2 linked regions of the Homo sapiens genome follow. The protein of the gene in region 1 interacts with the protein of each later gene in a pairwise test. Each region holds a gene or a part of one and is shown on either strand. Other genes may lie near its edges.

What was found. The genes of interacting proteins can lie anywhere in the genome.
Region 2: the proteins of F8A1 (region 1) and MTNR1A interact in a two-hybrid assay, tested with the Homo sapiens proteins (one large-scale study listed by BioGRID).

The regions. Positions count from the first base shown.
Region 1 is NC_000023.11:154,884,640-154,888,592, forward strand, and holds F8A1 (40-kDa huntingtin-associated protein), read left to right. Parts: upstream 1-1,715; 5' UTR 1,716-1,735; coding exon 1,736-2,851; 3' UTR 2,852-3,422; downstream 3,423-3,953. Other genes in the region: H2AB1 (histone H2A-Bbd type 1), read left to right, coding at 411-758.
Region 2 is NC_000004.12:186,532,860-186,535,871, reverse strand, and holds the end of MTNR1A (melatonin receptor type 1A), read left to right. Parts: intron 1-1,314; coding exon 1,315-2,183; 3' UTR 2,184-2,217; downstream 2,218-3,012.

The DNA.
Region 1 (3,953 bases):
AAGGCGTGGTACCCGTCCTCCCCTCGCCCACCCCTTTGTCTTTCCCACGGTGTTCCCATCCAGTAGAAAGGGAAAGTTCCCACTGGCAAAGAGAGGGTCACCAGCGCGATTCCCCCTGCCCCGCCCCACCCCACCCCCACGGCCCTCCAGCCACTTCTAGGCCCAGGCCTGCTCCCTCGAGGCCAATGGGAAAGTGATGAGGTCACCTGACGGACGTGTGTCCCTTGTGAGGGGCCGTCACCACATGCGTGCCCGTCGCCGGATGTGCGTGCCCATTGGTCTCGGCTCCCTAGCCAATGAGGGGCTGGGCCCTGGTCGCTAGGATACACAGTACTGGACGCGGTAACTGTCCTCTTGAGAGCCATCTTGCCTAGCTGGGCCAAGCCGAGATAGCACACTCAACGCCCAGCATGCCGAGGAGGAGGAGACGCCGAGGGTCCTCCGGTGCTGGCGGCCGGGGGCGGACCTGCTCTCGCACCGTCCGAGCGGAGCTTTCGTTTTCAGTGAGCCAGGTGGAGCGCAGTCTACGGGAGGGCCACTACGCTCAGCGCCTGAGTCGCACGGCGCCGGTCTACCTCGCTGCGGTTATTGAGTACCTGACGGCCAAGGTCCCGGAGCTGGCGGGCAACGAGGCCCAGAACAGCGGAGAGCGGAACATCACTCCCCTGCTGCTGGACATGGTGGTTCACAACGACAGGCTACTGAGCACCCTTTTCAACACGACCACCATCTCTCAAGTGGCCCCTGGCGAGGACTAGCTTCTGACACCCGGCCCCTGGGACCTGACAGGTCCACTCGTCCACCCACCCGGCCCCAAATCCCCCGGCCTGAACCCCCGGCCTTAAACACCCTCCCCCCACAACCCAGGCCCCAAAGTCTTGGGCCTTCATTAATTCTGTCAATAAAATGTTTCAAGGAAGCCATCTGCCCGCTTCAGTCACTTTGCCTTGGGGTGGGGGTGGGGGGGCGGTGAGATGGGTTGGGGGGTTGTGAGACCTCCACAGCTGGAGGGATGGAGAGGTGGTGGGGGTCTGGGGTTGGGTGGGAGCCAGGGATGGCACAGAGGAGCAGTCTCTCCGGGTGACAGTGCAGGGGAGTGGCCCTGGGTGGGAAGGGGACACCCCCGCTGGTTCTGAGCAAGTCAGGGCCTGCCCGGGAAAGTCCTCAGCATGATGGTGTTCGTTGGGGCGGGTGGGCCTCAAGACCATGACTGCAGTGTTGCGACAGGACGGACTTCTAAGGCAACCGGGGTGGGGACGGAGAGGTGGACCCGGTGCTTGGCAAGGGGCCCTGGACCGGAAGACGGAGGACTGAGTAGTCGGGGCGGGGGGGGGGGGGGACAACAGTCTAGAAATGCGCAGACATGGAATTAGGGTCACGAGTTTCGTTTGGGTCATGTTCAGATGGAGAGGCTGTGGGATGCCTTTAGCAACCTAGACCACTTGCATTGCAGCCGAGCTAGCAGCAGCTGGTGCCCCGCCAGGCCCCGCGTACCTTCCCAGGGTCTTGGATCCGCATCCCCGAGACCCTCGATTTGCATACGCCGCTCACAGCCCGGCCAGGCCCCGCCTCCGATCCCGCTCTTTGCACCTCATCAGGGCAAGGGGCAGGCTCGGGCTGGGGAGCCGGCGCGGGCACGGCGGCAGCCCGCCGAGGGGGACGCAGGGCACGTCGCCCCGCCCCGGCCCGCCCGCCAGCTGCGGCGGCGCGTCGGGAAGTGCTTGGGGCGGCGAGCATGGCGGCAGCGGCTGCAGGCCTGGGCGGCGGCGGCGCCGGCCCGGGACCCGAGGCCGGGGACTTCCTGGCCCGCTACCGGCTGGTATCGAACAAGCTGAAGAAGCGGTTCCTGCGGAAGCCGAACGTGGCGGAGGCCGGCGAGCAGTTCGGACAGCTGGGCCGGGAGCTGCGCGCCCAGGAGTGTCTGCCCTACGCGGCCTGGTGCCAGCTGGCGGTGGCGCGCTGCCAGCAGGCGCTCTTCCACGGGCCCGGGGAGGCGCTGGCCCTCACCGAGGCCGCCCGCCTCTTCCTGCGGCAGGAGCGCGACGCGCGCCAGCGCCTGGTCTGCCCCGCCGCCTACGGGGAGCCGCTGCAGGCCGCCGCCAGCGCCCTGGGCGCCGCGGTGCGTCTGCACCTCGAGCTGGGCCAGCCGGCCGCCGCCGCCGCCCTCTGCCTCGAGCTGGCCGCCGCCCTGCGCGACCTGGGCCAGCCGGCCGCCGCCGCCGGTCACTTCCAGCGCGCCGCCCAGCTCCAGCTGCCCCAGCTGCCCCTGGCCGCGCTGCAGGCGCTTGGCGAGGCCGCCTCCTGCCAGCTGCTGGCGCGCGACTACACCGGCGCCCTGGCGGTCTTCACGCGCATGCAGCGCCTGGCGCGGGAGCACGGCAGCCACCCGGTGCAGTCACTGCCGCCGCCCCCGCCGCCGGCACCCCAGCCCGGGCCCGGGGCGACGCCCGCCCTACCGGCCGCGCTGCTTCCTCCGAACTCCGGCTCGGCGGCGCCCTCTCCCGCCGCCCTGGGCGCCTTCTCGGACGTGCTGGTCCGCTGCGAGGTGTCCCGCGTGCTGCTGCTGCTCCTCCTGCAACCACCGCCCGCCAAGCTGCTGCCGGAGCACGCCCAGACCCTGGAGAAGTACTCCTGGGAGGCTTTTGACAGCCACGGGCAGGAGAGCAGCGGCCAGCTTCCCGAGGAGCTCTTTCTGCTGCTCCAGTCTTTGGTCATGGCTACCCACGAAAAGGACACGGAAGCCATCAAGTCGCTGCAGGTGGAGATGTGGCCACTGTTGACTGCTGAGCAGAACCACCTCCTTCACCTCGTTCTGCAAGAAACCATCTCCCCCTCAGGACAGGGAGTCTGATCCATCCCATTCACCCAGTGACTTCTTTTTGCCCAGGCCTGGACTTTTTGCATCAGTCACGTTAACCAGATGACTTTGCCTGTTACCAAACCTCATGCATCCACGTTTGCGTCTGGGGAGGAATAAAAAGACATCGTTCCCGCTTCTGCGTTTTGTTATTCCTACTGCCGCCATAGGAATTATTTCGTTGGCTGAACGTTACCAGCACCCCGAGAACACATTTTGATAGAATCAGAGTAGAGGACATGGCTGTCTTCTAAAAAGCCACGACATGAAAATGACAATCCCTTTCGTCTCCTTCCTCCGCTGCTTCCACCTAACGCAGCCTCCTGCCTCCGCCTTTGTTTCATAGTGAGGATTTTATTTTGCACGGCGCCCTCCCTCTAAATACCTACCCTAGATGATTTCATCCTGCCCCTCACTTCTTAACATATTCCTGTGTCTTTGTAATGGCCAAATTTCTCCTTCCACTCGTCCGCACGGTACGTCTTCATGGGAGTCATTTTATTCCTTACAGCTTCCTTGTAACCACAGCCCTAAATCCATGATAAAGCTACTCTTGTACTCCTCATGTGTGGTTTTGGTGTCCGTCGTCTATAAAATGTGACTCTCTTACCTACTTGTCAGGAGGCCAGCAGCAGAACCAGATAGCTGTTTGGGCTCCAGGATGTATTCGTTCCTTTGAAATTTGCGCTATGCCTCCTATGTGGGCAACGAACCTGCAGAGATCATCTATGATGTGCTCCGTACTCGGGTGACTGCAATGCAGATACATCCAGTGCAGCGGGTCTGGTGCCGATGCATCGATTTGCATTGGAATTCACGGTTCTGGTTCCATTCGCAGAGGTATATGCAGTCTGGATCACAACAGCTTTTATTTGTAATAGGGATTTTTTTTTTTTTTTTTTTTTTTTTTCCCCCCGAGATGGAGTCTCACTCTGTCGCCCAGGCAGGAGCGCAGTGGCGTGATCTCGGCTCACTGCAACCTCCGCCTCCTGGGTTCAAGCGATTCTCCTACCTCAACCTCCAGGGTGCCTGGGATTACAGGCGTGCACCACCACGCTGGGCTAATTTTTGTATTTTTAATAGAGATGGGGTCTCA
Region 2 (3,012 bases), on another chromosome or scaffold:
CTGGCATTTCTATTTGAGATAGACTTGGGAGAATGGGCAGGATTTAGAAAGTTGATGTGAGGAGCCATTCGAGGCAGAAGGAATAGTAAGAAACAGAGGCAGAAGAGCCGCAAAAGAAAAAAAACATATTTGCAGAACATCTCATAATATTTGACTAATGTAGCTGGGAGCAATGGCTCACACCTGCCATCCCAGCACTTTGGGAGGCCGAGGCAAGTGGATGGCTGGAGCCCAGGAGTTTGAGAGCAGCCTAGACAAAATGGCAAAACCCCGTCTCTACAAAAATACAAAAACGAGCCGGGTGTGGTGGTGTGCACCTGTGGTCCCTGCTGCTTGGGAGGCTGAGGTAGGAGGATTGCTTGAGCCCTGCAGGCGGAGGTTGCAGTGAGCCAAGGTCGGACCATTGCACTCCAGACTGGGTGACAGAACAAGACTCTGTCTCAAAAAAATAAAAATAAAAAAGTGACTAGAGTTTTTTTTTTCTGTAATTAAATATGTGTTGTTATATTAATTGAGAAAATTAACAGACTATTTAGGGTTTAAGTTTTGTAACGTAAGTTCTTTATAAGATCTAAGAGAATTTCTGCATTTTCCTTTGGTTCAAGGTGAGGGAGTCGTAGAATAAGAACATTTCTATGGTGTAAGACACGGTACATGGCGCTCACCACAGATAGTCTCATCTCGTGCTCACCACAGCCCTAAGAGGAAGCTGCTCATTATCCCATCATCCAGGGGAGGAGGCAGGTGCTTGGGGAGATCAAGTAACTTGCCCCGGTTGGACAGTTAGTAAGGAGTGAAGCCATGTTCTCATCCAGACGGCTGACGACAGATCCCTCTTGCCCTTAACTCCCTCTCTATGGGATCAGCAAGAACAGAAGCTAGAGGCCCCCTGAGAGCTGCTGAAGCACTACAGAGGGAATGAAGACTTGAACTTAAGGAAGTTGTGGCTGGCTTGACATCATATGAGATTTCTCAGGTGATGTAGAAGGCTCCAGAACAACAGATGGTGTGCAAGCATTCTGATCTCAGGACTTTTTAAGAGATGAGAAGCCGAACGGTTTGAAAGACAGCAGTTTTGAACATGGAACAGGCCCTGTTCTGGGGAGGTGGGAATGTGTGAACAGCGGATTCGATGTGTCAGGAGCGGCAGTGGACTGGCCCTCCTGGGAAACGGCCTCCACTTCATTTGCAGTGCGGCCGCCGCTGTGACGTCAGGTCATCGGAGCTGCAGAAGCAGCTCCTTCTTTAACAATTGTAACAGAAAACCCACTGTGAACTGGTATTCACTGTATTTTCTAAACGATTCTCTTTCAGGAAACATCTTTGTGGTGAGCTTAGCGGTGGCAGACCTGGTGGTGGCCATTTATCCGTACCCGTTGGTGCTGATGTCGATATTTAACAACGGGTGGAACCTGGGCTATCTGCACTGCCAAGTCAGTGGGTTCCTGATGGGCCTGAGCGTCATCGGCTCCATATTCAACATCACCGGCATCGCCATCAACCGCTACTGCTACATCTGCCACAGTCTCAAGTACGACAAACTGTACAGCAGCAAGAACTCCCTCTGCTACGTGCTCCTCATATGGCTCCTGACGCTGGCGGCCGTCCTGCCCAACCTCCGTGCAGGGACTCTCCAGTACGACCCGAGGATCTACTCGTGCACCTTCGCCCAGTCCGTCAGCTCCGCCTACACCATCGCCGTGGTGGTTTTCCACTTCCTCGTCCCCATGATCATAGTCATCTTCTGTTACCTGAGAATATGGATCCTGGTTCTCCAGGTCAGACAGAGGGTGAAACCTGACCGCAAACCCAAACTGAAACCACAGGACTTCAGGAATTTTGTCACCATGTTTGTGGTTTTTGTCCTTTTTGCCATTTGCTGGGCTCCTCTGAACTTCATTGGCCTGGCCGTGGCCTCTGACCCCGCCAGCATGGTGCCTAGGATCCCAGAGTGGCTGTTTGTGGCCAGTTACTACATGGCGTATTTCAACAGCTGCCTCAATGCCATTATATACGGGCTACTGAACCAAAATTTCAGGAAGGAATACAGGAGAATTATAGTCTCGCTCTGTACAGCCAGGGTGTTCTTTGTGGACAGCTCTAACGACGTGGCCGATAGGGTTAAATGGAAACCGTCTCCACTGATGACCAACAATAATGTAGTAAAGGTGGACTCCGTTTAAAAAAGCACCACGTTCCGGGTGAGATGGACACGCTGCGCAAGGCCTCGCTCTTGACAGATGTCTGGGAAAGCAGAGTGGTGGAGGAAACTTCCAACTTTTACCTGGCTGCTGCCATAGTTTCTGAGCTAACGTGCTGTCAGCATTATAAACCCCTCCAATTCTACTAGTCAAGAGAAGTACAGAATGTATGGAGAGTTACATGTTAACTGAGGAATGCGGTTCAGGGCTGGGGTGAGAGTAAGCTGCTGAATGCATTCAGGGGAAGGAGTGTGCAAACTTTTATTGTAAATGAGTGCCACAAAAGGGGTAATTGCATTCTTCTTCACTTTTTGAAGACTTCTAGCAGAAAAATGAAAGAGAATTTTATTTATAAATGAGCAAATGGAACAATTTTTTTTCTGTAAATGGAACAAACAATGAAAGTGGGGTGAGTGCCTCTTATTACAGAGGGAAAGGCTGAACATAAATCAGTTAATGGCTCATCAACAATCACAACCACAACCAACACCACAAACCTTTCAGCTGGCAGAGTTAGCATTGGGTAGCTATACTCATGGTCATAAATGTTTGCTGCTCTATATTACAAGTTGTGCATGCAACCAGATAAAGAACTAAATCATAGGCCGGGCACAGTCGCTCACACCTGTAATCTCAGCACTTTGGGAGGCTGAGGTGGGCAGATCAACTGAGTTCAGGAGTTTGAGACCACCCTGGGCAACATGATGAAATCCCATCTCTAAAAAAATACAAAAAATTATCTGGGCATGGTGGCACACGCCTGTAATCCCAGCTACTCAGGAGACTGAGTTAGGAGAATCCCTTGAGCCCC